Regions from separate parts of the Homo sapiens genome. Here regions 1, 2, 3, 4, 5 and 7 are each linked to region 6. Evidence: fine-mapped expression QTL. A gene starts in region 6. Each other region holds a variant in brackets. All regions are shown on one strand. Distances are between the middles of the regions.

Region 1 (4,069 bases), 260 kb after region 6:
CATGATGTAATTTTTAAGTGTATATTTTGAATTCAGTTAATATTCCATTTAGAATTTTGCATCTATATTTTCAGAGGTAGTGGGGCCAACAGTTTAATTTTTTGTTCTGATCTTATCCAGTTGTGAAAATTAGATTATATTAGTTTTAGAAAATGATTTAGACAGCTTTATCTCATTTTCTGTATTTTTGAAACAACCTGTGTAAGTTAGAAATTATCTATTCCTTGAAATTTTGGCAAAATGCACCCATAAAACCAACTGGGCCAGGCAACATTTGAGGGACGGGGATATGTCAATTTCATAATTGTTTTGATAAGATCTAAGTTTATTCCCCACTATTTTGTCATGTCTCCTTTTTTCCCTGTTTTTATGGCTCTCTGATCATCTTGTGTGGAAATCTAATTTTTGCACCCGAACAAAAATATCACACAAAATTTTCTAACAATGGCTTCTGTCTCTTGCGAAGATTATCTACAGAAAATTGCTTCTTCTTTTAATTTTTAGAATAATAAACTTCCTCACTTCTTCTGCATTCTTTTTTATAGGGCTTGTGTTGTGTATGTTTGTGTGTGTGTTGTATTTACTCATTTTCAAATAAGAGAATTATCTATAAGAGAACTTACAAAATTGAAATGCATGGCTTCTCCCTCTTCTGTCTTCTATACCAAATCCCTTCTTAGATCTACAATTAGTAGTATTCAATTCTGAGCCCAATTCTAGTGTTTTTCCAGCATTCATATATTATGATTCTGCTCACCAGAGGTGCTATCTTCTGTTTTCTCTTTCTGGTTTTCTGGTACTCTGAACCAATGGAGTAAATGACAGACTGTATTCCTCCAAATGAATTTGCTTTACCAAGGCTTTTTCTTTTTTTTTTTCCCACCTGCCTATAATCCTTTTCTGAAGGAGAATTTCCATTCCAGCCACTTACGCAATTTTTTTTTTTTTAATTTGAGACAGAGTCTTGCTCTGTCGCCCAGCTGGAGTGCAGTGGCACGATCTTGGCTCACTGCAACCTCTGCCTCCCGGGTTCAAGCGATTCTCCTGCCTCAGCCTCCCTAGTAGCTGGGACAACAGGCTCATGCCACCACGCCCAGCTAATTTTTGTATTTTTAGTAGAGATGGGACTTCACCATGTTAGCCAGGATGGTCTCGATCTCCTGACCTCGTGATCCATCCACCTCAGTCTCCCAAAGTGCTGGGATTACAGGCGTGAGCCACCGCGCCCAGCCAATGTTTGTATTTTTAGTAGAGACGGGGGCCTCACCATGTTGGCCAGGTTGGTCTTGAACTCCTGACCTCAAATGTTCTGCCTGCCTCAGCTTCCCAAAGTGCTGGGATTACAGGTGTGAGCCACCGCGCTTGGCCTAATTATGCTTTTTTATTATAGTAAAACACCCTTCCCCTTTGTAACAATATTTTCCTAGAAGTGCCTTCTCTGAATGACCGTAGATAGAAGAGAAGGTTGAAAGAAAAGTCATAAAAAAGGAATATCATAGTAACAAAATGATGGCTACTCAACAATCTGGTTGGTCCTGACCTTAGTTTTCTGAGCCAGGGATAATATTGTGAATGAGAGACTAGTGTCCTTATATTTTATTTTAACTGTTGTTTGGACTTCTAAAAAATTTTATTATTGTTGTTAAGCAGAAGGAAGCCACCAGTTGTATCTCTCAATTCAGCTCCAGAGGACTTGTAGATAGTGAAAATTCCTTTTGGATTCTGGCAACCAGCTTGTCTACATGTCTGTCTTGTGAGTTGTTTTTAATTCTGGGCTTCTCTTTCTTGGTAATTTTATTGGGCTTTTGGAAGTAACTGCATCAGGGATTGCTAATTTGATTCAATTTAAAAAAGAAGTTCCACTGCAAATGAATTTAAAAATAATTTTTTCAAGTTATATAAGGAATAGTTAAGATTCACTTTTGAATTGCTTTAATTTATAGATTAACCTATGAAGGATTTTCATCTTTATAATATTTATTCTTTCCTTTCCAGAATTTTTATTCACAGTTTAACATAAATTTTACATTCTTTTAAAACATCTCTATTTTACATTTTTGTTGTTGGTATAAATTGTTTTTATTTTAATTTCTGGTACATTTAATGATATAGAAATGGAACAGAGAAATACTATGGATTTATATAAGTATCTTATCACTGATTACTTTGTTGAACTCTTTTAATAGCTTTGATAATTTTATAGGTGATTTAAAATTTTTTTCTAGGTATACAATAATATTGCCTGAAATTGACATTTTATTTTTCCTCCCTGATATCTAAAATTATTCAAGTGTCATTGCATTTGTAAGTCTGAAATGCAGTATTAATTAGTAAACAGTGAAAACGGGCATTTAAATTTTGTTTCTGTTCTTAATGGGACACCTCTAGTGTTTTCTCA[A/G]TTACTTAGAATGTTAGTTCAGGATTTTAAGTAGACAACTCATTTGTGTTGAGTATTCTTCCACATTGTAAGGATTTAATAACTTTTTTTTGAAGTTGAATTAAATATCTTTCTATTTTTATATTTTCTGCTGAAAACTCTTAAATAAGTTCTGGTGTTTTCTTGGAAAACCTTTAGGTGCCTATTGAAATGTGGTTTTTATTATTTGTACTATTAATGTGATAAATTGTTTTGATAATTTTTCTGATGTTGAATATTCCTTAAATTCCTGTGACAAATTCCATTTGTTCATGGTGTGTGTTTTTTTTGTAAATATCTGAATTGCTTGCATTTTGTTTAACATTTTGGCATGTATATTAATAAATAAAATTGGCCGGTAGCTTTCAAAATAGTATGGTTATCAGGTTATTTAGATCCTAGGTAATATTTTACTTATTGTTTTACCATTTTTTAAAATGTTCGAAGTGGTTTATATAATATTGACATTATTCCCTGATCATTTTAGATAACTTATCTATAAATGTATATAATCCCTCTGCTTTCTTTGATTTTCTCTCTAATTTGTTTTTCAGTTTTTATCATATTTTATAAATAGAAATTATTCATTACATGAAATTCATTCTCATACAACTGTGTAGTCACTCACTTTAGTTTCTATTTTGATTATGTATTTTTTCTCACCTTTATTTCTTTGTATTTTACTTGATTAAATTTTTGGTGTTTATCAGTTTTTAGCAACTCAGATCTTGGTTTTATTTTTTAATTATATTCCTGTTCAATTTTCTGATATCCTTATTTAATTTTATTTTTTCATTTTCTTATTTTTGTTGAGGTTGTCTTTTTTCTCATAGAAGCGAATAAACTTATGTAAAAATGTTTCCAAATTGTCTCCCATGTACCAGGCACTCTTCTACATGCTGGGGATATGAATAATGGTGACCAAAGTTCTTGTCCTTATGGGACTATATCTGTGTCTGTATCTATGTCCACACACACTCCATAAGTATACGTAATATCATATACAAATAGTATATAATAAATTATATGTATATTATTGTGGCAAGAATACTTAAAATGAGACCTACCCTCTTAAATTTTAAGTGTATAAAACAATATTATTAGCTATGGGCACAATGTTGTACAACAGATCTCTAGATATTAATACATTTGTACATGCCTATAGAAATTATTCATCTTGTGTAACTGAAAACTTATTCCCATTTAACAGGAACTTCCCATTTGCCCCCTCCCTCAGCTCCTGGAAATCACTATTCTACTTTCTACTTCTATGAGTTTAACTAATTTAGATACTGCATGTATTAATAAGTGTCATCATGCAGTATTTGTCCTTCTATGACTGGCTTATTTCACTTAACATAATATCCTTAAGGTTCATCCATGATGTTGCTTATGGCAGGATTTTCTTCCTTTTTAAGGCTGAACAATATTCCATTGTGTGCATATACTACATTTTCTTTATTCATTCATCTGTCAATAGGCATTTAGTTTGTTTTCCCTTCTTGACTATTGTGAATAATACTGCGATGAACATGAGAATATAAATATCTTCTCAACATCATGATTTCAATTTTTTGATAAATATTCGAAAGTAGCATTATTGGATCAAATGGCAGTTCTATTACATTTTTAATGTTTTGAGGAAACTCCACA
Region 2 (4,065 bases), 76 kb before region 6:
TGGGAATAGGAAATAGGAATCTAAAGCAGATAAATCAGTGAAGAAATCAGTGGATTCCAATAACTATCCAAGCCTTCCTCTGTGGCTGGAAGATTGACCACACTATAAAGAAAGTAATGATTTGTTATTCTTGCTAAATCATTCTAAGAGCCTTCACAAATACACTATTCATAATGCTCAAAACCTTACAGTTTAATGCAGCTTTCCCATTTGTGATTTAGAATACTTGACAACTATTTTATCAAAATTTTATGTTCTTTTATGTTTTTTTTTACCTGAGAATTTTACTGTTTCCACCTTGTAACTTCTGTTACAAGTAATTTCTATGTTCCTACTGTACTAAACAGCCCTAAGTTTGCATTTTGATAGATTATGATTTCTATCATGCCTATTACCATGATACCGAGAGGGAAGATATGTACCAAAACCCTCTATTTCATATGCTCAGAACTTAAATCCATTATTTTGCCTATAAAACCTCTATTTATAAAAGGAAAATAAAAACTGAGTTTTTCTTTACCTTATTTAAGAGTGAGATTAGGTTCAGAGGCAAGAATTCCCTATAGGAATCCAACAACATGCTTTTTCCTTTAAAAATTAGGTCAGATTTTTGATAATTAACAACTATAGGAGGCAAACTTGTTGGCTATAACCCAAAGGTGATTATTTTCCTCAGAAAAGAAGGCCTGCATAGTATTTTATCAGATTAGGAAAAGATGTCATTTACCGTTATTGTATTATCCTGATTTGTTTCAATTTCCTCATTAGACAGTGAACTTACATTTGTTCATCTTTGTGTACTAACAGAGGGCACCAAATAAATGTTTGTTTTATAGTAATATAATTAATTTCAGCTTATTTCAGCTTAATCCAAACATATATCTCACTGAAAAAATTAAAAATGTATTGGGAAAGAGGAACATGATAAAGTCAAATGATAAGTTTGTAGACACATTGCTTCCTGTTAGAATTAATGTGCCATTACATATAGTATGTAATATATGCACTGTGTGCCTATGTCAACTACAGGGGATATTAAAATGAGGAGAACAATCAGGCCTGCTCTTGAGGTCACAATTTGGAAATAGAGGATAGACTGCACTGCCTTTTCTTTTTTTTTTTTTTTTTTTTTTTTGAGACGGAGTCTCGCTCTGTCGCCCAGGTCGGACTGCGGACTGCAGTGGCGCAATCTCGGCTCACTGCAAGCTCCGCTTCCCGGGTTCACGCCATTCTCCTGCCTCAGCCTCCCGAGTAGCTGGGACTACAGGCGCCCGCCACCGCGCCCGGCTAATTTTTTGTATTTTTAGTAGAGACGGGGTTTCACCTTGTTAGCCAGGATGGTCTCGATCTCCTGACCTCATGATCCACCCGCCTCGGCCTCCCAAAGTGCTGGGATTATGCCTTTTCTTTAAAATTCTTGGAAATAGCTCGTTTCACTGTGTATTTTTGTCTGCTCTTGGTACACAAGTAAAATACTACAGAAATTAATTTCTTTCAGCATTGAAGTGTTTGCTTTCCTCTTTATTTCAACTAAGTTGTAATAATTTCTGGTATCCTGGTAATTGATAACTAAGATAATATCTACAGAGTGGATGCCATTAATTCTCTTAGCAGTCACGTGCAGAAGGGAAGGGTTTGGGCCAACCTAGGGTTGTGCTGTCTCTGTCGACTAGTCTAGGAAAGCACCCAGGTGTCAGGTATTTTGGTCCCTTCCACCACACCTCAGCAAATGTAAAACAAGCCCACAGTTAATGGCCCTGTGGCAACCCTGCCCTGGAGAATCTCAATAAGAGCATTTGAAATGAGGAAAGCAAGATTTCACATTTAAATATCTTGCTTTGGCACACAGTTGCTTTTATTGATTAATAAGCAAATAATTATAGGGGAACTACTATTCATCGAATACACTTATTAAAATATTATAGCACCATAAACTATATTGGTATAAAAATGTTTTATTCTTTCTTTTGTAGCAAGCCCAAGATGTAGCAAGCAGTCCACCTGAGAGCTCCTTCCAGAAACTAGCACCCAGTGAATATAGGTATACTCTATTGAGGGATCGAGATGAGCTTTAAAAACTTGAAAAACAGTTTGTAAGCCTTTCAACAGCAGCATCAACCTACGTGGTGGAAATAGTAAACCTATATTTTCATAATTCTATGTGTATTTTTATTTTGAATAAACAGAAAGAAATTTTGGGTTTTTAATTTTTTTCTCCCCGACTCAAAATGCATTGTCATTTAATATAGTAGCCTCTTAAAAAAAAAAAA[C/AAAC]CTGCTAGGATTTAAAAATAAAAATCAGAGGCCTATCTCCACTTTAAATCTGTCCTGTAAAAGTTTTATAAATCAAATGAAAGGTGACATTGCCAGAAACTTACCATTAACTTGCACTACTAGGGTAGGGAGGACTTAGGGATGTTTCCTGTGTCGTATGTGCTTTTCTTTCTTTCATATGATCAATTCTGTTGGTATTTTCAGTATCTCATTTCTCAAAGCTAAAGAGATATACATTCTGGATACTTGGGAGGGGAATAAATTAAAGTTTTCACACTGTGTACTGTGTTTTACTGATTGGTTGGATATTGCTTATGAAAATTCCATAGTGGTATTTTTTTGGATTCTTAATGTGTAACTTAAACATACTTTGAAGTGGAGGAGAGTCATAAGACAGAACATTTGGCAGGAATTGTCCTTATGAAACAAGAAAAAGAAAATGAAAAGTATTATTAAGCTTCTGTGTTTGTCTAAAAATGTGGCATATGGATGGCATTTAAAACTTTGAATGAATTATACCTAAATCTGGGACAGGGAGGTGACAGTGGAACAGGCTACCAATCAGAACTAGATGACTTTTAAGGCTCCTCCTATTATGAGACTTCAATTTCCAAAGAGAAGAACTAGCAGAGAAATTGTATTTCAGTAATTTTAAGCTCCTTCTGTCTTGTAGAGTCTTGTTATAGTTGTATAAATCAAAAACACAGAATAAGGAACATATTTAACTTTTTTTCATTATAAAATGGTTAGAGGACCCTACCCCCTCTAGATTCCCTGATTTCCCCAGGCCTGCAGCATACAGTAAGATGGGTCCCTGTGCCAGGCCTCAATACTGCCAGGGAATAAAACCAGAGGGAGAGGACCCTCAGTGTCATATCAGGAAGCCCAGTGCCAGAGGACAGACAGGTTCAAAACTGGCTTTTCCTCTGGGCCTGGGTTGGTGCTATAGGCCAAGGGTCATTTTATACTTGGGTATAAATCAATCCCAGTTTGGGAAAAGATTATTTTTAAGCTTAAAAGGCTGACATGTGCCATTATATGTAGTATGTAATATATGTAACATCTTCCAATTCTTTTAAAATAAAATTAATATTTATAATGGATATTTAATGATTGTTATTTTTAAAAACCAGCTTATAATTCCTCGTTATGCATGATTTATCCAAAGTTTCCATAGTTTTATTCAAAATAATAAATGTTAATAAGGTGATAAGGGGTATATTTAATGTATTGTATCAAATTGTGAATAAGAAAGTAGGATGGAGCTTTCTAGAGGTTGGGCCTTAGTTCTGTTATCCTCATTGCTTTTAACCAATAAGTTAAATGAAGTTAGAGTTATGGTCTTCAGGTTAGATTATGGACCAGATCTGTGAGGGTCAGCATGGAAATTCACATTCAACAAGGTAGCACACAGGACCAAGAGCAGCACATGCAATCAACTGGAATAATATAGTAATCCTGTAACTGGGTTTGAAAAAATAATCAACAAAAGATACAATTCAAGGGTTAGGTTGCAGAGAGCTGGCTTGAGAGTAGTTATTATGAAAAAGGCCTCAAGGAGTACGTGTTCAGTATGCTCTAAGATGATAAAGTGGCTGTTAAAAAGGGAGTTGATTTGAGGAAGTATTACTTAGCATTCATGCATATTGGGCTTAGGCTCTAGCCCTGCCACTATCATTGTCTTCTCTGGACTGTGAAGTCACTGAGGACAAGGAAACTAAATTTAATGTCTGTATCACTAGTGCCTAGAATTTCTGGACACTTAGTAGTCACCATCAGGCGTTTATTTAATGAA
Region 3 (4,069 bases), 82 kb before region 6:
TTGTCTCTTTTTACTCTTTTTTCTCTAACCTTCACACTTTATTTCATTCATTTGATCTTCAATCACTGATACCCTTTCTTCCACTGGATCGAATCGGCTACTGTAGCTTGTGCATGTGTCACATAGTTCTCGTGCCATGGTTTTCAGCTCCATCCGGTCATTTAAAGTCTTCTCTACACTGTTTATTCTAGTTAGCCTTTCATCTTTTTTCAAGGTTTTCGGCTTCCTTGTGATGGGTTCGAACATCCTCCTTTAACTTGGAGAAGTTTGTTATTACCGACCTTCTGAAGCCTACTTCTGTCAACTTTCCTGCTTTGTTCCATTGCTGGCGAGGAGCTGTGATCCTTTGGAGGAGAAGAGGTGCTTTGGTTTTCAGAATTTTCAGCTTTTCTGCTCTGGTTTCTCCCCATCTTTGTGGTTTTATCTACTTTTGGCCTTTGATGATGGTGACCTACAGATGGGGTTTTTGTGTGAATGTCCTTTTTGTTGATGTTGGTGCTATTCCTTTCTGTTTGTTAGTTTTCCTACTAACAGTCAGGTCCCTCACCTGCAAGTCTGTTGGAGTTTGCTGGAGGTCCACTCCAGACCCTGTTTGCCTGGGTATCACAACAGCAAATATTGCAGGAGGGCAATTATTGCTGCCTAATCCTTTCTCTGGAAGCTTCGTCTCAGAGGGGCACCCAGCTGTATGAGGTGTCAGTCGGCTCCTACTGGGAGGTGTCTCCCAGTTAGGCTACACGGGGGTCAGGGACCCACTTGAGGAGGCAGTCTGCCTGTTCACAGAGCTCAAACATGCTGGGAGAACCACTGCTCTCTTCAGAGCTGTCAGACAAGGACGTTTAAGTCTGCAGAAGTTTCTGCTGCCTTTTATTCAGCTATGCCCTGCCCCCAGAGGTGGTGTCTACAGAGGCCAGCAGGCCTTGTTGAGCTGCGGTGGGCTCCACCCAGTTCGAGATTCCTGGCCGCTTTGTTTACCTAGTCAAGCCTCAGCAATGGCAGGCACCCCTCCTCCAGCCAGGCTGCCACCTCGCAGTTCCATCTCGGACTGCTGCGCTAGCTAGCAGTGAGCAAGGCTCTGTGGGCGTGGGAGCCACTGAGCCAGGTGTGGGATATAATCTCCTGGTGTGCCGTTTGCTAAGATCATTGGAAAAGCGCAGTATTTGGGTGGGAATGTCCTGTTTTTTCCGGTACAGTCTGTCATGGCTTCCCTTGGCTAGGAAAGGTAAATCCCCCAATCCCTTGTGCTTCCTGGGTGAGGCAATGCCCCACCCTGCTTCGGCTCGCCCTCCATGGGCTGCATCCACTGTCCAACCAGTCCCAGTGAGATGAACCAGGTACCTCAGTTTGAAATGCAGAAATCACCCGTCTTCTGCGTTGATCACACTGGGAGCTGCAGATTGGAGCTCTTCCTATTCGGCCATCTTGGAAGGGTAATCCCAGTAATAGATTTTTTTAAAGGTGCTAAGGCAATTCAGTGGAGAAAGAATAGTCTTTTCAAGAGATGGTGCTAGACTAACTGAATGTCCTCATACCAAAAAAGAATTTCCTTCTATGAAAAATTAACTTAGAATTTATCATGTACCTATATGTAAGATAAAACTAGAAAACTCTTAGAAGCGAACATAGGAGAAACTCTTTATGACCTGGGGTTTCACAGAGAGTTCTTAGAGTATCAAAAGCACTATCCATAAAAGGAAATCATTTATAAATTGGTCTTCATCAAATTAAAAACTTTTGTTCTGTGAAAGATACTGATAGAATGTAAAGAAGATATAGGGATGGCAGATAAACACATGTGAAGGGTGCTCAACATCATTAGTATATATTTTTTAGAATGCCTAAATTAAAATACTGATAATACAAGGTATTCATGAGGATGTGGAACAACTGGAAGTTTCATACATTGCTGGTGGATTACAACATGATACAGTCACTCTAGAAAACAGTTTGGCAGTTTCTTCAAAAGTAAGACATATACCTACCATATAACCTGGCATTTATTCTAGACAAAGTTCACAAAAACTTGTGCACAAATGTTTGTAGCAGTATTGTTCATAATCACCAAAATCTGGAAAGAACTTGAATGTCCTTGAATGGATAAACTAATTGTGTATCTACTCAATGGGAAATACT[G/A]TTCAGCAATGGATACAGGAACAGATCTTTTTATACATACAAAAATGGCTGAATCCCAAATGCAATAATGCCAAGTGAAAAAAAAAAGCCATTCTTATAATTACATGTTGTATGATTTTCTAGAAATGACAACATAGAAGGTCAACAGTTGCCAGGGGTTATGGGAAATGGAAGAGTCTGACTTAAAAAGGGTGTTGGAATTGTTCTGTACCTGATTTGAGAAGCTGGTAGCAAAATGCTATGCACATGTTAAAACTCATAAAACTTAAGCCTAAAAAAGTGAATTCTGCTGTATGTAAATTTTAAGAAATAAAAATACGTATTACCTTGTATTCATTTGTCAAAGTTTGTTCATACACTTAACATTTGTGCATTTCACTATGTCAAAATTTTGTGTCACCTAAAAATAAAGAATTGTAAATAAACAAAAAAGTAACTGGAGGATGGGAAACACTTAGGTGTTCTAATTAGAACAATTTTGCCCTAAAGCGTGATATATATAATTTTATTTATTATGGCAAGGGCCCATTTATTTTCCTGTTTAGGAGATTACCACGTAGTCTATTTTCTTGACAATTTAGTGTTGATTCACTGAATGTTACTTCTTAATAATGATGGATAGTTTCTGGCCACAAGCTAGATAAGAGCTCTTTTATAATCTATTTTTCTACTGCATCAGTTCAGATTCATCCTATCTCTCGTCTTTTCCTTTTGCACACATTCTTTCATCTGTTGACAGTGGAAAAAAATCAGCTTGGAAAAATGTGTTTTGAGTGTTTTCATGAATTTCTCACATTTAAGATTTAATCATAAATTATTTCTTGACTAGCAGAAGCAGTTCATACTGTATTAGTTGTGATAATCTTTGGCCCTCATAAAACAAACTAGCAGAGGCTTTATCTTAAACATTATAGACCCCATTTGCAATGCTATGGATTGAATGGATATATTTTAGCACTTGCTGTGGGTGACAGTAGATGATGTCAGATTAAATTTAAATTGATCTCCTCTCAATGTTTATCTCTGGTGCATGTGCAATTACTTCAGCACCAGAGAACCTTTCAGAGGCATTCTGTCAATACAGCTACCTGACAGTCATTTGTATTTGTAAACTGTGCATTTGGCACCTGCTGGTCTCTGTTGCATTGGAGCTAGTGGGGAGCCAAAATGGGTATACAATGAAGTTATTGGTTGGTACATCTCAGTGGGAGTTATTGAAGGGAAGAAACAGCACTTCCGGGACCTCAAGAGAGGATAAAAAGTAAAAGAAACTGGTAATATTAACTACAAGCCAGCTATTGTTTGCTACCAAAAAAATAATGATTTTAAAAGTCAATCAATTCTACCCAAGGAATTAAAGTGTATATGGACCTGCATTTTAATTCTTGTAACAGAATGAAAAAGTGTTTCTATTTAAAATATATAATTAATTTTTTAAAGCACCAAGATCTCAGAAGGCAGACAATTCGTATGAGCAGAGATATAAATTCAGACAAGCAATGAAAAAAATGCTTAATTTGTGAAGAAATGTAAATTAAAATGCAGGTATCTTTTACTTATCAAATTAGCAAAACCAATTTTAATTTAAAAAAGACATGCTTGGCAAGACTTTAAAGAACAAACAGGTAGACAGATAGTAAAAACCAACTGATGTTTTATAGGTATAATTTGCTCACACTTGGTCAAAAGCTCTTATTTGTTAACCCAGTAATCCTACTTTATTGTATATAACTCAAGGAAATATTACAAAGAAGAAAGCCTGGTACATAAATTTGTTTAGCTCAGTATGGTGGTGTCTGCTACAGTGCATTGTTTCTGTGCTGCAGATTTGCTCATACATGATTGGTAATTAAGAGAATAGTGTCCATAGAAAGTGAAGTTGTGTCAGTTTATATATCATTATCCTCAGAATATCCTGAAGCCATCAGAATAAGCT
Region 4 (4,069 bases), 97 kb before region 6:
ATTTTGAAAATTCATTTAAATGCCATTTTTATCTCAAAAGATTAAATTACACAGAGGATGATTTGTAGTCCTATGGCAGAATGAATTACCCCACTGAGTTCTAAATATTTCAGTGGAGATGTGGTTGTTTGGTAGAAGATTCCCAATCCTAAAATTACCTAGGAAGCCTAGATTTGAGTCCAGCCTTGGGAAAGTCACTTACCTCCTCTGTTCTTGTTTCTTCGTATATAAAAAATGGTTAATGATACCACCTACCTAATGGGATTGTTATAAAAACTAATGAGAAATAATGATTATGTTATAAACCATAAAGTAGTGAGAAATCTTAGTTGTTCTTACTTTATCTATGCTCAGAAAGATACCATTCAAGCTATCAATTCATTAAATATTTAGCTATCTCTTCTGTATGACAGACATTGTGCTAAGAACCAAGGGTTTTTACTGAGACTGGGTCCCTGCCCTCAAAGAATTCATAACCAAGTAGAGGAAAGGGACAACCAGGTTAACAGGCAATTGTGTTTTACTAAGGGATAAGTGCTCTGACAGAGATCAACAGAGTAGTACCTGATCCAGGATTTCTGGCGATATTGATGCCGAAGGTAGGTATAAAGTTTTGTAGAAGTTTATCCCGAGGTGAGAAGGAGATGGGGCTTAGAGAAAGGTGACCTTGGCAAGAACAAGTTCAAGGGCTGTTGGTGAATATAAATGGAAAGGTGAATGCTGAGGGATGAGGTCAAGAGAACTAACACATGAAAGTCCTTACATGCTGTGTTAAGGAATTTTGACTTTATCCTGAAAACCATGAAGAGCCAATGAAAGGTTTTAATCAGGGAATGACATAATCAGATTGTTTTTTAAAGATTACTCTGGCTGCAATTTGGAAAATAGATTAGAGGGGGTCAAAATAAAATCTAGGAGACTGTTCAGTAATCTAGTCAAGAGTTGATTATGAAAGTTAATCTCAATGGACATCAGCAAGATGACAGAAAAGGACTTTCCATGTTCGTCTCCACACAGAAACATCAAGTTGAACATACATCCATGCAGAAAAATACCTTCACAAGAGCTAAGGAAACCAGGTCAGAGATAGTAGTACCTGAGAGTAGTAAAGAAATGATGCATTGAAGAGGCTAAAAAGGACAGTTTTATGCTACTTGCACCACCCCTCCCCCAACCCCAGGCAGCACAGTATGGAGAGAGATACCCTTCATGTGGGGAAAGGAGAAGGAAGTTAGCACTGAACTTTTCCTCAGACCCAAACACTTGGCTTGTCCTGGTAAAACCCAGTGCCAGAAAGGCTTCTGTGGCCCCAGACTCCAGGCTGGTACCCATGAACTGAGCATTTAGTCCCATCCTGGTGCCAGGCAATATCTCCAAGCCCCAGGCTGGATTCCAAAGCTGCAGGCCCGAGGCCTGCCCAGCAGACTCAGTCTCTGGACCTATTCCAGCACCAGGCCAAACCCAGTGGCTTCAGGCTCCAGACCAGCTGCCCACAGCCCTGATCATGAGGCTAGCACTCACAGACCCAGGGTTCAGGCTTATCCTAGTAGACTCCAGTGATGGACCAGCCTCCATGGACCCAAGTTCTAGGACTACACTTGTGGATCCAGGTTTCAGACTGGCCCCTAAAGCCCCAGGACCCAGGCTAGACTTTGCAGACCTGACCCCCAGGCCAGCACCTGCACACTCAGCCTCCAGGCCAACACAAGTGGACCCAGGCTCTAGCCAGACTCCTAAGCTCTAGGCTTTCAGCCAGCCTCAGTGGCTTCAGATACCAGGCCAGCAACCATGATCCTACACTCCAGACAAGCTGCCATAGATCGTGATTCCACACCTGCCCCAGCACTAGGTCAGCTGCAGGTTCCAAGGACCCAAGATCTAGGTTTGCTCCAGTAGACAGAGAGTCCAAGTTCACCCTAGTAGGCCCTGGTTCTAGGCCAGTCTCCATGGACGGAAGCTCCAGGACTATCTCTGCAGACCCAGGCTCCAGGCCAGCCCCTGTGGACTCTTGACCCAGGCCCACTCCCACAGACTCAGCCTATCCCAGTGGACCCAGGCACCAGGCTCATCCCAGTGCCTGGCTGGCCCCTGCAGACTCAGGCTCAAGGCCTACCCCAGTGCCAGGTCAGCTCTAGTGGACCCAGGCTTCAGACCCACCCTCTTAGATGCAGGCCCATTCCACAGAACCAGACAACAGGTCCACTCCTGTGGACCCAAGTTTCAGGCTTAACTCCATGGACCCAGGCACCAAGCTCACCCACCTGCTGACCCAGGCACCAGGCCAGCCAGTGTGAAGACTCTTAAGAGCAAGCCAACCTATGGACCATA[G/C]CAGGCAGCTGGACTAGAATCCCTGAATTGACTGACTAGTGAAGGGCTTTCCCAGACAAAGCCAGTCAAAGACTAGAATAAGTCTCTACATCTTCAAATGCCCAGACATCAATGTAAGGCAACAAGAAATGAAAAACCAAGGAGACATAAACGTAACATCACCAAAAGAGCACAATAATCTCCCAGAAGCTGACCCAAAGAAATGGAGATGTATGAACTGCCTGACAAAGAATTCAGAATAATTGTTTTAAAAAGTAACATCCATGAACTTCAAGAAAATACTGAGAAACAATTCAATGAAATCAGGAAAGCAAGTTACCAAAATGAGAAGTTTACCAGAGAGATTGAAATTATATATTTCTTAAAAATTAAACAAATTCTAGAGCTGAAGAACACAATGAATGAAAAGAAAATGTAATAGCATCACCAACAGAATTGAACAATTAGAAGAAAGAATTTAAACCTGAACATACAGGTTATTTGAAAACATACAGAAGAAAAAAAGAATGAAGAAAGTTTATGGAATTAATGGGACAGCACCAAAAGAGTAAATATTCAAGTTATAGGAGTAAATGAAGGAGAAAGGAGAAATAAAGGGGTAGAAAGCTTATTTAAAATAAAAAAAGCTTTGCAAATCTGAGGAAAGGTATAAGTATCTAGGTACAGGAAAGTCAAAGAACTCCAATCAGATTTAGTCCAAAGACTACGCCAACACATAAACTGTTGAAAATCAGGGACACAGGGAAGATTCTGAAAGCAGCAAGAGAAGATTATGAAAGCAGCAAGAGAAGATTATGAAAGCAGCAAGAGAAGATTCTGAAAGCAGCAAGAGAAGAGCAAATAACATATAAAGGGGAGTTCCAGTACAGCTAGCAGCAGTTTTCTCATCAGAATCCTTATAGACCAGGAGAGAGTGGGATGATATGTTCAAAGTCTTTAAGGAAGAAAACTGCCAACCAGCAATATTATATTAATACCTGGCAAAGCTGTCCTTCAGAAATGAGAGCTAAAGACTTTCCCAGATGAACAAAAGCTGAGGGAGTTCATTACCATCAGACCTGTCTTAAAAAGAATGCTAAAAGGGAGTTCTTCAGGCTGAAAGAAAAGGACAGTAAGTACTAACATGAAAACGTGAAAGTATAAAACTCACTGGTGAAAGTAAGTATACAGTCAAATTCAGAATACTCTAATTCTGTAATGGTGGTATATAAATCACTTATAGCTTTGGTATGAAGGATAAAAGACAGAACTATTAAAATAATAATAGCTACAATAATTTTAGGGATACACAATATAAAAAGATGTAAATTATGACACCAGAAATTTAAAATGTGAGGAGGGTAGAGTAAAAGTGTAGTTTTTTTTTTTATGTGAATAAAGTTTTTATCAGCTTAAAATAGCCTGTTATGAGCATAGGACATAGTGAAGAAATGTACAAAATAAAATAAAAATTTTAAAAACCCTATTATAATTATATTTTACGTAAATCTCATGGTAACCACAAAGCAAAAAACTTTAGTAAATACACGAAAGATAAAAATTAAGGAATAAAGCCTACCACTAGAGAAAATCACCTAATCACAAAGGAAGACAAGAAGAGAGGAAGAAAGCAACAAAGGATCTACAAAACAACCAGTGAACAATTAACAAAATGGCAGTAGTCTTTACCCATCAATAATTAATTTGAATGTAAATGTCTTAAATTCTCCAGTCAAAAGACAGAGACTGGCTGAATGGATAA
Region 5 (4,069 bases), 380 kb before region 6:
GGTCTGGGATGGTCTCGTAACTTGCTTTGATCAATATAATGTGTGCAAATTCTAGAGTCTATTTCTCAAGAGGTCTTGTGGCTTTTATCTTCGCTTTCTGAAAATGCTGTCCTGAGACCACAATGTAAGGAAGCCAGTCTAGTCTACTGGAGGATGAAAACCACGTAAACCAGAGTCAAGGAATCCCATCTGATAGCCAGCATCAATTGCTAGACATTTAAGTGACTATATCTTAGACATGGAATTCCACTGACTCTCCACCTGAATGCAGACACATGAGTGAGACCAGATGAAGCCCGTAAACAAACTTCCCAACCAAAATAGAATCATAAAAATTAAATTGTCATTGTTCAAAGTCACTTTGTTTTTGTGTGGTTTGTTATACAGCAGTAGATAATGGAAGCAACCCTACTCTTACAGATCTTGCAGTTTGGTGGAAAAAATGACAAGTAAACCAGTAATAACAGTAAAAAGTGATGATCTTTATAAGAGGGAAGTATAGGAGAAGTATGGAAGCAATAGCAGGAAACTATAGCCTCCTTTAGCGGGGAGATATTGGTTGAACAGAAGAAGAAACATTATCCCTGATATCTAAAAAATAAGGTAGAGGGAGTGGCATCTGCAAAGGCCCCAAGCTAAGAAAGAACTCAAGGAAGTTCAACATGGCTGTCACATTATGGGAGCTTAATTAAAGCTGGTTGGATGAATAAATGAATGAATATGTACCAAAGCATCATGAGTATATAATCCTTAAGGATTACACTGTAAAGTGGATTATGGAATTATATTCCAGAAATGTTTATATTCATTTTAGATATATATATTTTTTGAGACAGAGTCTCACTGTCACCCAGGCTGGAGTGCAGTGACGCAATCTCGGTTCACTGCAACTTCCGCCTCTCAAGTTCAAGCAATTCTTGTGATTCAGCCTCCTGAGTTGCATGCACCACGATGCCTGGCTAATTTGTATATTTTTAGTAGAGATGGAGTTTCGCCAAGTTGGCCAGGCTGGTCTTGAACTCCTGGCCTCAAGTAATCCACCTGCCCCAGCCTCCCAAAGTGTTGGGATTATAGGTGTGAGTCACTGCACCCGGCCTGTAGTCATTTTATGTATACTTTTCTGTAGTTGTTCTTGGCTAGATTAATGAGTGGCTCAATAATAATAGTTACTGAAAACCTATGATGAGTTATGGGCTATAACAAGTACACTACATGAATTATTTCTATCCATAGCTACCTTGTGGTGTAGAAAGTATACCCTCACTTTATAGCTAAGGAAGTTAAGGTTCAAAGAAACAGATTGAACTGTCCAAGCCCTGAATTCAGTAATCATGAAGTTCCAGAGCCCCTTTCTGAGAAAGTCCATAAGGTCAGGGCTATTTTCATAATAATACGAAGACATTATTTGCCTTTTTCACTGTGTTGGCATTTGCACTTAGATTTTGGGAAAGCTCCTACCGTTCTCTAACTTATAAGAGTAGCTCAGTGTGTTTAAATTGCTTCGTGCAAACAATAGGGTTCGTGCTGCACACCTTTCCTTCTGGGAGTCTGGAATTTTGGCATATGCTAGGCAGAGGGTATCTATGTGACTGACTCCAGATAAAAATCCTGGAGTCCTAGGTTCATGTGAGCTTTCTTTGTCAACAAAAGATTGTCTGACTGGTTGTTACAATTTATTGCAGAAGGAATTAAACGTGTTGTGTGTGACTCCACTGGGAGAGAGCCGTTGGAAGCTCGTGCCTAATTTCCTCTGGACATTGCTCCATACACCTTTTCTCTTTGCTCATTTTGCTTTGTGTCCCTTTGTTATAATAAATCCTAACTGGGAGTACAACTATATGCTCAGTCAAACTAGTAAATCCTCCAACCTCACCAAACCTGGTGGTAGTCTTGGGGATGG[G/T]GATCATGGGGATCCCTGACACACAAGTAAACTCTAAATAGGATAAACTGCAAAAAGCCATGCCAAGACACATCATATTAAACTTCTGAAAGCTAATGATAAATTTTAAGATCTTGAAAGCAGCCAGAGAGAAATGACATATTACCTAGGACTGTTACTGAGAAACACCAATTTGAATGACAGTGGATTTCTCATCTGAAACCATGGAAGCCAAAAGGAAATGGCACAATATTTTTCAAGTGCTAAAAGAAAAGAACTGCCAACCCTGAATTCTATATCTGGCTTAATGATTCTTCAGGAATCAAATAAAAACATTCTCAGACAAAGGAAAACTGAAAGAATTTGTTGCTAGCAGACATACCCTTAAAGATTGGCCATAGAAAGCTCTTCATACAGAAAGGAAATGATACAAGAATCTTAGAGCATCAGGAAGGAAGAAGAAACAACAGAAGAGCAGAAATACAGGCGGGCGCATAAAATGTTATTTCCTTTGTGAGTTTTATAAATTGTATTTCATGATTGAAACAAAATTTATAACACCATCCGATACCTAAGCAATGAAACGTAAAAGTGGACAAAGTGAATGGAAGTGAGGTTTTCACACTTCACTCTAAAAAAGAAAAGAAAACAAAAAACCATAAATCAATCAAGATAGAATTTTTAAAAATGCTGAAGTAACCTACAGGAAGGGAAAAAAAAGAAAAAGAACTGAGAACCAGAGGAAACAAGTAGAACACAAATCATAAAGTGGCGGTCCTAGGTGCTAATATAACAATTATCTTAAGTGTAATTGGTCTAAATACACCAATCAAAAAAGCCCACAGTCCATGGGCCGGCAGAAGATGACAAAGGCAATACACCTACCATTTGGCCTTCTGGAGTTTGTTCCCTGCAAATCTGAGGAAACATGCTGCTCCTTCTGGAGGGCTCCGCCTAGAGACCCTCCTGGAGATCCTCTGCTGTCTCTTGGCTCAGGGCCTTGGGCCACGTTGCCAGCAGGAGGCTGCTTGCTGGGGGCCCGGCTCTGCCTGCTGGGCACATCCTGGGTGCTAGGCAGACAGGGAAGGGCCTGGGGTCTGCAGGAATCTGGGCTCCGCCTTCCTTTTTGCTGTTCTGCCTCTTTTCGTTTGTTTTCTTCCTCTCGCTTTCTGGAAGCAAAGCCAAAGAAGAAGATGAAAAAATTTAAAGAGTATCACCTCCTCAAGTCTCTGTGTGAGTTTAAATTTTAAGAGGAGCTACTACATCACAGGAGATATTTGGAAATTTGCATTTTCCAAGAGCAGTCTTTTCTCCAGATAAAATAAAAACCATCTCTTTTACACCAGGCCTTATAGCCCAAAAGATGATGGAGCAGAAAAGTTTATAGATCAGTCTTTGTGCTGTTGAGACACATGACAGATAACCAGGCAACTTTTCTGTGTGAAACATAACACACTCCCAACGGTGTATGTGCCCCAAGCTTATGTGTGATCCCTGGAGCTACCTGTAACTCCACCCATTTTTCTCCTGTTTCAGAAAGCACACCAGAATGCTACCGAGAATGACAGTCAAAGGGATAACCTTGAATCTGCTCTATTCATTTAAAAAAGCCCATCAAACCTTAATGATCATATAAAAAGTCACTTGCAAAGTACCTTGCCAGTGATTAAAACACACCTGTGAGTTGCAGATGCTGCCGTTGACAGCTCTAGCTAATGAGTCAGATCCACTCATTTTACAGATGAGACCCAGAAGGTAGGGTGATTTTCAAAAAGTCACACATAAGTAGCTGGTGGCAAAGCTGGAACCCTTGGGTAGCAGGAGAACAGAGAAGGGCTGGGGAGCAGGGGCCCGTCTAAAGATGAGTAGCTGGGCGAGGCAGGTGGGTCTGAGGTGGCTCAGAAAGGTAGCCCAGGCCCCTAACTCAAGACAAAGGGGCCGAGTTAGGGGCAGGATTTGTTTGACCATTGCTGTTAACTTGTAGGGATTCCCAAGGGAAAGACAGGAGGAAAAACACTTAATTTCTGAGTCTCTCTCTGCTGGGCACTGAAGATACAGAAATGACAACCACAGATTTCAGGTCCTCTCCTGAGGAATCTTCTACCCAGAAGGGGACAGCCAGGAAAACAAAGACCTAATATATGATAGAAGAAATGTTATATTTTGTATTTATTTATCTTTTTAAAGACA
Region 6 (4,069 bases):
ATGAGGAAAGTAGAAAATCATCATTAGAACACCATAGTCATAATAATTGCTGAAGGCAAGATCCACCAATGGATGTGAAATTTAGCAAGGGAAAGTCTGAGGAGAAACAGGATATGCGTACGGTTTAAAAGCTCCCCCCCAAGATGTCAATTATAAGGAGAAAAATAAGACCTTTACATTGGAGAATCCCAGCAGACACTCTCTACCAAGTGATCAAGATTAACCTCACGAGCAATAAGTCATATATATCAGCTATGCTCATATGATGAACTGAGAAGGGCACACACACTTTTGTGTTCTTAACAAAAATGTATAACCTTAATCTAATCATGAGAGAACACTGGACAAACCCCATTTGAGGGGCACTCTACAAAATAACTGACCAGCATTCTTCAAAAGTGTAAAGATCAGAAAGAGTATAAAGACAGAAAAAGACTATCAGTGTAAAGACAGGAAAAGACAGAGGAACTGTCACAGACTGGAGGAGACCAAGGACCCAAGACAACTAACTGCAATGTCGGGTCTTAGAGTGGATCCTAGAATAGAAAAAGGACATTAATACAGGAAAAAAAATCACAAGTTAGTAATTCAGTTAATAGTATTATACTAATATTAACTTCTTGCTTTTGATAATTGCGCTATGGTATGTAAAAAATTATTAATGGAGGCAATAGGGAACTCTGTATTACTTTTGAAACTTTTCTGTAATTTTAAAATTATTTCAAAATAAAAAAGTTTTTTAGTATAAGAGGATGTTTCACGTAAGACAGGTAAAAACATTTAGAAGTCAAAGAACTGCCATCGTATTCACTGCATTAATACTTGGAGAGAGGGGTGCCAGGACTGTGCCAGGTGCTTTACAAACTTTATCATGTAGTGCTTACAACTAATATGAGATGGGTACCATAATACTCATGTTTCCCAGTAAGTTACTTAGGAGGTTATTAATAAGTGAAAGACCCCATTTCTCAGGAAACCCAGCCCCCAAAAGTGACGAACACCTTCCATCGGCCCAGAGCTCCCACTTTTCAGGATACTAGTGGCGCCCGATTTCTTCCGGCCCGCCGCTTAATGTTTCTGACTTATGGAAGAGATACCGAATTTGGAGAGAAAAGTCAAAGTAAAGTCTCCTCTCTGAACCTCGGTTAGCTAAAAGGAGGGAGCCAAGGTGTGGGACCTTCTGCCAACCACCTCTGGGTTTGGCGAGCAGGGGCTTCCGGCCTCTCGCTCCCAGTCCTCCGAGCCTCACTACCATCGAGCGTCGCGTCATTCCTCGCAGTGTCACCCACAGCACACCTGGGCCACACACACCAAACGCCCCCACCAGCGAACGGATGCGCGGGTCTGTCCCGGGACCCAGACGCCAGCGACCCTGGCGACCCGGGGCCTACAGCGCGCCAGAGACAGGACGCGCGCCGGAAACTTTTCCACCCCGCGACCCCGGGAGGCCGTCCTGCTCGCATCGTCTGCGGCCTCCCTATACCAGCTTCCAATAAAGCTTCCAAAAACGAAACCAAGCGAGGCTCCGCCACTTCTGAAAAACAGGAGGAGCCACCATGGCGCTCGCACTTCGGATCCAATGCCCTACTTGCCGCCCAGCGCCTCTTGCGCGCGCCACACGGGCGCCAGGCCCACCAAGCCTGTGAGGGCCCGACGCCCCCAAAGGCGGCCTCCAGAGAGCCCCTTACCTCCCGCCGGGGCGCTCGAGGCCGGTCGGTGGGCACGGCGCAGGCGCAGGAGCGACGGGGCGGGGCATCACGAGGGGTGGGCAGGGTTGGGCCCCGCCCCCGCCCCCGCCCCCGCCCCGCAGGGCCCCCAGGCCGGGCGCTGGGGGCGCACAGGTGAGTACAAATGCGGACGCTGCTGAGAACAGCGAAAGCCTTTTTCAAAAGTGATATTGATTTACGTTATGGGGTTGTGACTCGAGCCAAGAGGAGAGAGACGCACAAACGCTCTTTAGGTCTGCTTGTTGTGTTTAAGACAATTCATGCTTGTATGGCCGACTGCATTTCGCAGTTTTCCTGTCCGTTTTCCTCTGTTCTTCCTAGAATTTTATTTGCGGGTTGGGCATGTATTCTTAGCTCTGTTTTGAAACTGAAGCTCAGAAAGGTGGTGCCTCCCCATCCCGTCCCCAAAAGCCCTGTGAAGTGGACAGGGCAGGAGTGCCATCTTAATTGCAACAGGTGTAAAAATTAAAGCTCAGCAAATTGTGGTTTCCTCCAAAAACTGGTGGAGGGCTTAAGGCAAACGTCTTTATCCCGATTTTATAGATTATGACTCTGGGGTTTAACAAAGAGTTTTAAGTGACTCACTCCAGTTCAGCCAGCTTATGGCAGAGCTGGAACTCCAACTGGGTGTCCTAATTTCCTTCCCAAGTTATTCCAGTTAGACCAGCTGCAACCACATGAACAAGCAGGTGGCCGGCTTTGAAGCCTTGTCCAAGTCACAGGTCCTCCTCTCTTCATGGCCTAACTTCCAGATCCAGCCCTTTTAAAAAGATGTCTGTGAATATTCAGATGACGTGCTTAGAATGTATTCACTAATGGCATTGTCTCAGAAGTGATCAGGATGTTCAAACCACAGTTAAGGAAACTGAGTTCTTAGGGTCTTCCAGTAGAGTAGGAGGTAAACAGGGAAGATTAGGGGCCTGTAGATCCTTTAAAAAGCCTTGAAAGACAATTTCTAAAACAAAGCACCAAATCTACCAAGCAATTTGGATTTTCTTTGGGGACATAATGTATACTGATATTTGTTTTACAATGAGCTCCAGAATGTATTTATCAAATTTTGATTCTAAGGAGAAAAATTAAAGTATTAGGCAATACTGTGAGAAAATGTTTTTTATGCAAGGATCAGTGAAATAAGATCTTTTGAAATAAAAGATCATTTGTGTTAAGTTCTGAAAAAGCTTCCTCAGGTACAAAATCAGGAGGTGTGGTACTCAAAGATTCTAAATTTGGACCTGGACTTCTAAGTTGTTATATGTATGTTTGCTGTAAGTTAGGTGTGTCAAAGTAGTAGGATAAACATTTTTTTTTTTTTTTTTTTTTTAGACAGAGTCTTGCTCTTTCGCCCAGGCTGGAGTGCAGTGGCATGATCTCAGCTCACTGCAACCTCCACCTCCCAGATTCAAGCGATTATCCTGTGTCAGCCTCCTGAGTAGCTGGGACTACAGGCGTGTGCCAACATGCCCGGCTAATTTTTTGTATTTTTAATAGAGACAGAGTTTCACCATGTTAGCCAGGATGGTCTTGATCTCCTGACCTCGTGATCCGCCCGCCTCGGCCTCCCAAAGTACTGGGATTACAGGTGTGAGCCACCATGCCCGACCAAAACCTTTTAATCTAACTGTTGGTTAGCTTGATTTATAATCTTTAAATATTCAAACATATGGTGTGTGGACCTCTTTTGTGTACTCTAGGTCATCAAGTTGTTAGGGGCAGGCCTGCTACTACTGGCCGACATTTTCCTGAAGTCCTAACTGAACCCAGCAAGTCCAAACAAAACATTAAGTGTATATGTTGGAAAGAAAATTAAAAAAAATTCTTAGGGTGTTATGATTGATTGCTTTCTTGGAAAATCCATGGAATAAACTGAAACTAATTCAATAAGATGGCTATAAAATACCTCTCCTAAACAACAATCATCAATTTTAAAATGTAATGAGAAGAAGACTGGGCGTGATGGCTCATGCCTATAATCTCAGCACTTTGGGAGGCCAATGAGGGAGGATTGCTTGAGGCTAGAAATTCAAGACCAACCTGGGCAAAATAGTGAGACCCCATTTCTAAAAAAAACAAAAAAAACGTAGCTGGGTATGGTGGCATGTACCTATAATCCCAGCTACTCAGGAGGCTGAAACAGGAGGATCAGTTGAGCCCAGGAGTTTGAGGCTGGAATGAACTATGATCCCACCAGCCTGCACTCCAGCCTGCAGAAAAGACTGACACCCTGTCTCAAAAAAAAAAAAAAAAAAAAAAATTGAAATGTACTGGGAGGAAGATTACATTCAAAAATGACAAAAATCAAGTTTGTGTTTATAAGGAATTACAAGACCTATTTGAAGAAT
Region 7 (4,069 bases), 340 kb before region 6:
GAACTATGAATACTATTCAGTATTTTTGGAAATAATTCGTTTTTGCATTCTCAGACGTATAATATACATAATTATCAACACTAGTAGTAATGAGAGCACATTCTATTTCTTGAGTACCTGCTCTATGCTAAGGTATACAGCAGGCACTTGTCATAAATTTTCTCTAATCTTTACAACAATCCTGGAAGAAAAGGTATAATTATCCTCATCTTACATATGAAGAAACTAAGATTAAGAAACTTGTGTAAGGTAATACAGTTTAGCAAACTGCACAGACAAGATTCTAGCCGAGATTGTTCTAGTTCCAAAGCCTTGCCACACTGCTTTAAGGACAATTACACGTGGCTGAACACTAAGATGTTCTTAGTGCTATAAAAGTAATATAAAGATGAAGTATTCTTACAGTAAAGTAAAATGTTATGCTTAACATTAAAATAAAATCTGTATAAAACTTCAGATGTGACTAACAACTTAAAAAAACCTCAGGCTATCACTTGCATCACAGAGTGAACAGCATGAACCATTGTTAAAAGATAATTGCTACATAAAAACAGACAAATGAGTCTAAGTAAATCTGGGCAAAGCTGAATAAGATCAGGGATTGTATCAATGTCAATTTCCTGTTTATGATATTGTATTGGATGTTATCATTAGAGTGAATTAGGTGTAGGAGTGCAAAAAGCTTATTGGAAAAATAAATAAATAAATAAATAAAAACAGAGTGAACTAGGTGAAGGGTACATGCAATCTTGTTGTATTATTTCCTACAACTACATATGAATCTACAATTATATAAAAATAACAATTTTCACTAAGAAAAAAGAGCATTGTCTTGTTTTACTTACAGCAAAGTTACTCTGAGCAGCATAGTGCAAAGGTGTGGCTCCTTGGCTGTCAGATGGGATAGTTCCAGACTTATTTCTTTCTAAAAGGAGATGGACAATCTGTGCATGGCCTGAGAAAAGACACAAAAAGGTAATTATCACTTATAAAGGATGTTAATTAATTTATAATCTATTTAAATGAAAAAGATAAGAAAAATCACTAACATAATACAGCATTCACAACGGTTTCTGAACAGCAGCCCCCAATGCAGCCTCTTCTAACTTCTCACTAACATATTAATATGAGGTAGAACAGAATGAAAACTTACTAAAAACTTAATGCTTCAATCAGGTAGGAATGAATTAAGTATAATTGCCAGGCTGAGAAAAAACTATATTAGGTATCACCTCATTGCATTTCCTGGCTTCACTTTATAAAGCTGCCTAAAGCAAAGGAGGGGAAGGTGCTTTAGAGCCAAGCCCTCTTAGCCTTCACTGCTCCTACTCTCAAGGTTCCGTTGCCCAACCAAACAGAACTGCATAACTGTTCTCTTCTATTCAGGTGGACAAACTATAACACAACCTCTTCTATCTCTGAGGCTTCCCATCCCTATATTCTCCTTTCCACAATCTTTTATTATATTTATATTTTATAACATCTAGGCAGTGATTTCAAATCTCAGAAAACAAGTGGGCAGGCATGATAAGGCAGCGATGAAGACAATGTAGTGCATTCTGGAGGATGTGATCTCCACAAGTGAAGAGCTGTAGAAAATATTAAAAAATGAATAAACCTGGTAGTAGCATACGTAGGAAACCTGAAATTTCATACACTCTATTGCTTTCAGATATTGGAGAATGAAGAAGATGCCCCATTAGCAGAGCAAGGATATACTGCATAAAAGCCAAGCAGAGAAAAGTAATTTGAGTGGAAATTGTGTTCATCTATCTGCTCTCCAGAGGTGGTCTAAGATGGAGTTCTCCATAACACAAATGTGGGATTAAAGACAATCTTTGCCACATAGTTACTCTAAACACATATCATTTTGTTTGAGAAATAAAGGGAAAAATTCAGTAAGGACTACAAAAAAACATACTATAGGAAAGTGAAAAAGAAACACTGTCAGGAAGATAAGCAGCATACCTCTGAAAATGATCTAGAGAAGGATCCAGAGGAAAATTTCAGGCAACTGGTATCCTCGACTTAGTGCAAAAAGAGATGGCTTCTATGAAACAGAAACAGGGTATTCTAAGAAGAAAACAGAGTGAAATGAAAAAGTAATGGAAGGAAGTTAAAAGGAAATGAAATGAGATAAAAAGAAATATAGGTAAGACAAGGAAATAAAAATAGAACCCAAAATACAATCTATATAGGAGGCAGAAAGAAAGCAAAACTTATAGAACAAAAAGTCAATTTAGTTACATGGAGACAAATTTGCCAAGTAAGCCCAGAATCCAGAAGAAAAATAAAAAGGGATGTAAGATGAAATCTGAATAATAATTCTAAATCTGGCGATAAAAGTGAGTGCACATATAAACATCATTTAAA[A/C]AAAAGATAATGTGTAATTTAAAAACTAAGATCAAGATTATAATAATTAGGGGGAAATCTCAGATTACATTAACAAGTACTAAAAGAGTGATGAGTATCTGTGCTAAATTTTTTGTCTTAAATAGGTGGGAATCAATAGATGCATTTTTGCTCTTGACTCTGATTCAGGCTTTAAAAAGTTTTTGATAAATTTAAAAGTAGCCACTCCTAAACCCTCCTAAAACATTAGGCAATTCAAAATCAAATAACAACATCAAATCTAATCCATATACCAAAGAGCAGAAAGCAAAGGAAACAGGAAACAAAACAAAACAAAACGTTAAGCTGAAAACACTAAGAATAGAAAGATAGCAGGAAAAAAAAAGACCTGATTATTTATCTTATAACAATGACTATTAATGGGTAAAACTCCTTCATTGAAAGAGAAAGACTCTCAGATTGACTCCACACACAAAAAACCCCAACATACACATAAAACATACACATATATACACTCTCTCATCTATAAAAGTGATCTTCAAAAAGGTTAAGTAAAAGGCATTTCAGGAAAATATAAAGAAAAAAACTCAAATATCATAGTATTAGCATAAACATAAAATTAAAGCCCTCCTCCCCAAAAATATAGGCGCTGAATGTGAAAAGAGGTTTATGTTACATTCACATGTTGTCACTAAATGTGAATTACTTTTATAACAAAAATTTAAAGTGAAGATATGATGTTGAAATTAAAACTAATATTTAACATAAAATAAATTTATATTACTATAATTTAGTTTATAAAACAATGCAACATATCAGTTAGAAATCAAAATAATTAACTAGGAGTTGGGAGTAAACAGTGGAAGGGAAGGCACAGAAATATTCCTATACTCATGAAGTTCCTTTTACTGTTGATCCTTTGAGTCACGTACCTAATAAAGCTGCCCAGTGCAGTGGGGTTCGAAATAAGTTATCATAAGACGTTATATTGCAGCTTTCATATGAGGTCAAGACATCAACCACGGTCACATTCCCATCAGCAACTGCAAAGTGAAGAGGAGTTCGACCCTCGTAGTCTTGCCAGTTCAGTAAAGACTCTGTTGGAGCAGCATCCTGATTTGAAGGAACCAGAGACTTCAGACATACATGGAATCCTCAATAAATTACATTTGGTGTAAGTATTTTTTTCTTTCTTTCTTTTTTAGAGACAGGGTCTTGTTCTGTCACCCAGGTTGGAGTACAGTGGCATGATCACAGCTCACTGCAGCCTCAAACTCCTGGGCTCAAGCAATCCTGCCTCAGCTTCCCAAGTAGCTGGGACTACAGGCACATCCCACCACACCTGGCTAATTTTTGTGTTTTTTGTAGAGATGGGGTATTGCCATGTTTCTCAGGCTGGTCTTGAATTCCTAGGCTCAAGCAATTCTCCTACCTCAGCCTCCCAAAATGCTGGGATTATGGTGTGAGTCACTGTGCCCAGCCTGGCACAGGAATTAACTGAGGAATTTTCGAAATAAGACCTCTACATTATCTCTCAGCACAAGTGATAAATCATGGAAAAGGTACAAAGTCTAAATCTTTAAAAAATTATTTTCATATTTAATTATAAAAAGTACAGAAAATAATATAACCATTACATACTGATTATCTAGATTAAAAAGGTGTCAACATTTTGCCTGATATGCTTTTGTTTCTGTTATCATTCAACTAAAGATGT

Which allele goes with the higher level. Alleles are on the strand shown, and positions count from the first base shown. SD is a standard deviation of normalised expression in the study named. Not every link is listed here.
In carriers of allele AAAC in region 2, the expression in monocytes after Pam3CSK4 of the gene that starts at base 1,741 in region 6 tends to be higher than with C alone (large effect, 1.3 SD a copy in Quach 2016).

The links. PIP is the estimated chance that this variant, and not a neighbour inherited with it, causes the effect.
Region 1: its variant is fine-mapped to the expression of STX17 in blood mononuclear cells (TOPMed, PIP 0.90).
Region 2: its variant is fine-mapped to the expression of STX17 in monocytes after Pam3CSK4 (Quach 2016, PIP 0.95).
Region 3: its variant is fine-mapped to the expression of STX17 in whole blood (TOPMed, PIP 0.99).
Region 4: its variant is fine-mapped to the expression of STX17 in whole blood (INTERVAL, PIP above 0.99).
Region 5: its variant is fine-mapped to the expression of STX17 in whole blood (TOPMed, PIP above 0.99).
Region 7: its variant is fine-mapped to the expression of STX17 in whole blood (TOPMed, PIP 0.96).

What each region holds. Positions count from the first base shown.
Region 1 is chr9:99,643,097-99,647,165 of GRCh38, reverse strand. The region is part of intron 3 of LOC101928438 (a long non-coding RNA gene); the gene reads left to right. Among named protein-coding and RNA genes, the nearest start is that of NR4A3, 180 kb to the left of the region's middle. The variant A/G (reference allele first, on the strand shown) is at 2,399.
Region 2 is chr9:99,980,622-99,984,686 of GRCh38, reverse strand. ERP44 (endoplasmic reticulum protein 44) reads left to right here. Exons shown (of 12, transcript NM_015051.3): 12 at 1,974-4,065. The coding sequence ends at 2,075. Among named protein-coding and RNA genes, the nearest start is that of STX17, 76 kb to the right of the region's middle. The variant C/AAAC (reference allele first, on the strand shown) is at 2,271.
Region 3 is chr9:99,985,921-99,989,989 of GRCh38, reverse strand. The region is part of intron 10 of ERP44 (endoplasmic reticulum protein 44); the gene reads left to right. Among named protein-coding and RNA genes, the nearest start is that of STX17, 81 kb to the right of the region's middle. The variant G/A (reference allele first, on the strand shown) is at 2,134.
Region 4 is chr9:100,001,760-100,005,828 of GRCh38, reverse strand. The region is part of intron 10 of ERP44 (endoplasmic reticulum protein 44); the gene reads left to right. Among named protein-coding and RNA genes, the nearest start is that of ERP44, 95 kb to the left of the region's middle. The variant G/C (reference allele first, on the strand shown) is at 2,329.
Region 5 is chr9:100,283,299-100,287,367 of GRCh38, reverse strand. INVS (inversin) reads right to left here. Exons shown (of 17, transcript NM_014425.5): 13 at 2,765-3,048. It overlaps LOC124902235 (a long non-coding RNA gene), which reads left to right and starts at 3,047. Exons shown (of 2, transcript XR_007061700.1): 1 at 3,047-4,069. RefSeq lists enhancers at 2,431-2,931, 2,932-3,432. The variant G/T (reference allele first, on the strand shown) is at 1,901.
Region 6 is chr9:99,904,326-99,908,394 of GRCh38, reverse strand. STX17 (syntaxin 17) reads right to left here and starts at 1,741. Exons shown (of 8, transcript NM_017919.3): 1 at 1,689-1,741. STX17-DT (STX17 divergent transcript) reads left to right here and starts at 1,794. Exons shown (of 3, transcript NR_038853.1): 1 at 1,794-1,841. RefSeq lists an enhancer at 1,203-1,442 and a silencer at 1,603-2,002.
Region 7 is chr9:100,239,456-100,243,524 of GRCh38, reverse strand. INVS (inversin) reads right to left here. Exons shown (of 17, transcript NM_014425.5): 6 at 3,285-3,465; 7 at 846-955. Among named protein-coding and RNA genes, the nearest start is that of TEX10, 110 kb to the left of the region's middle. The variant A/C (reference allele first, on the strand shown) is at 2,374.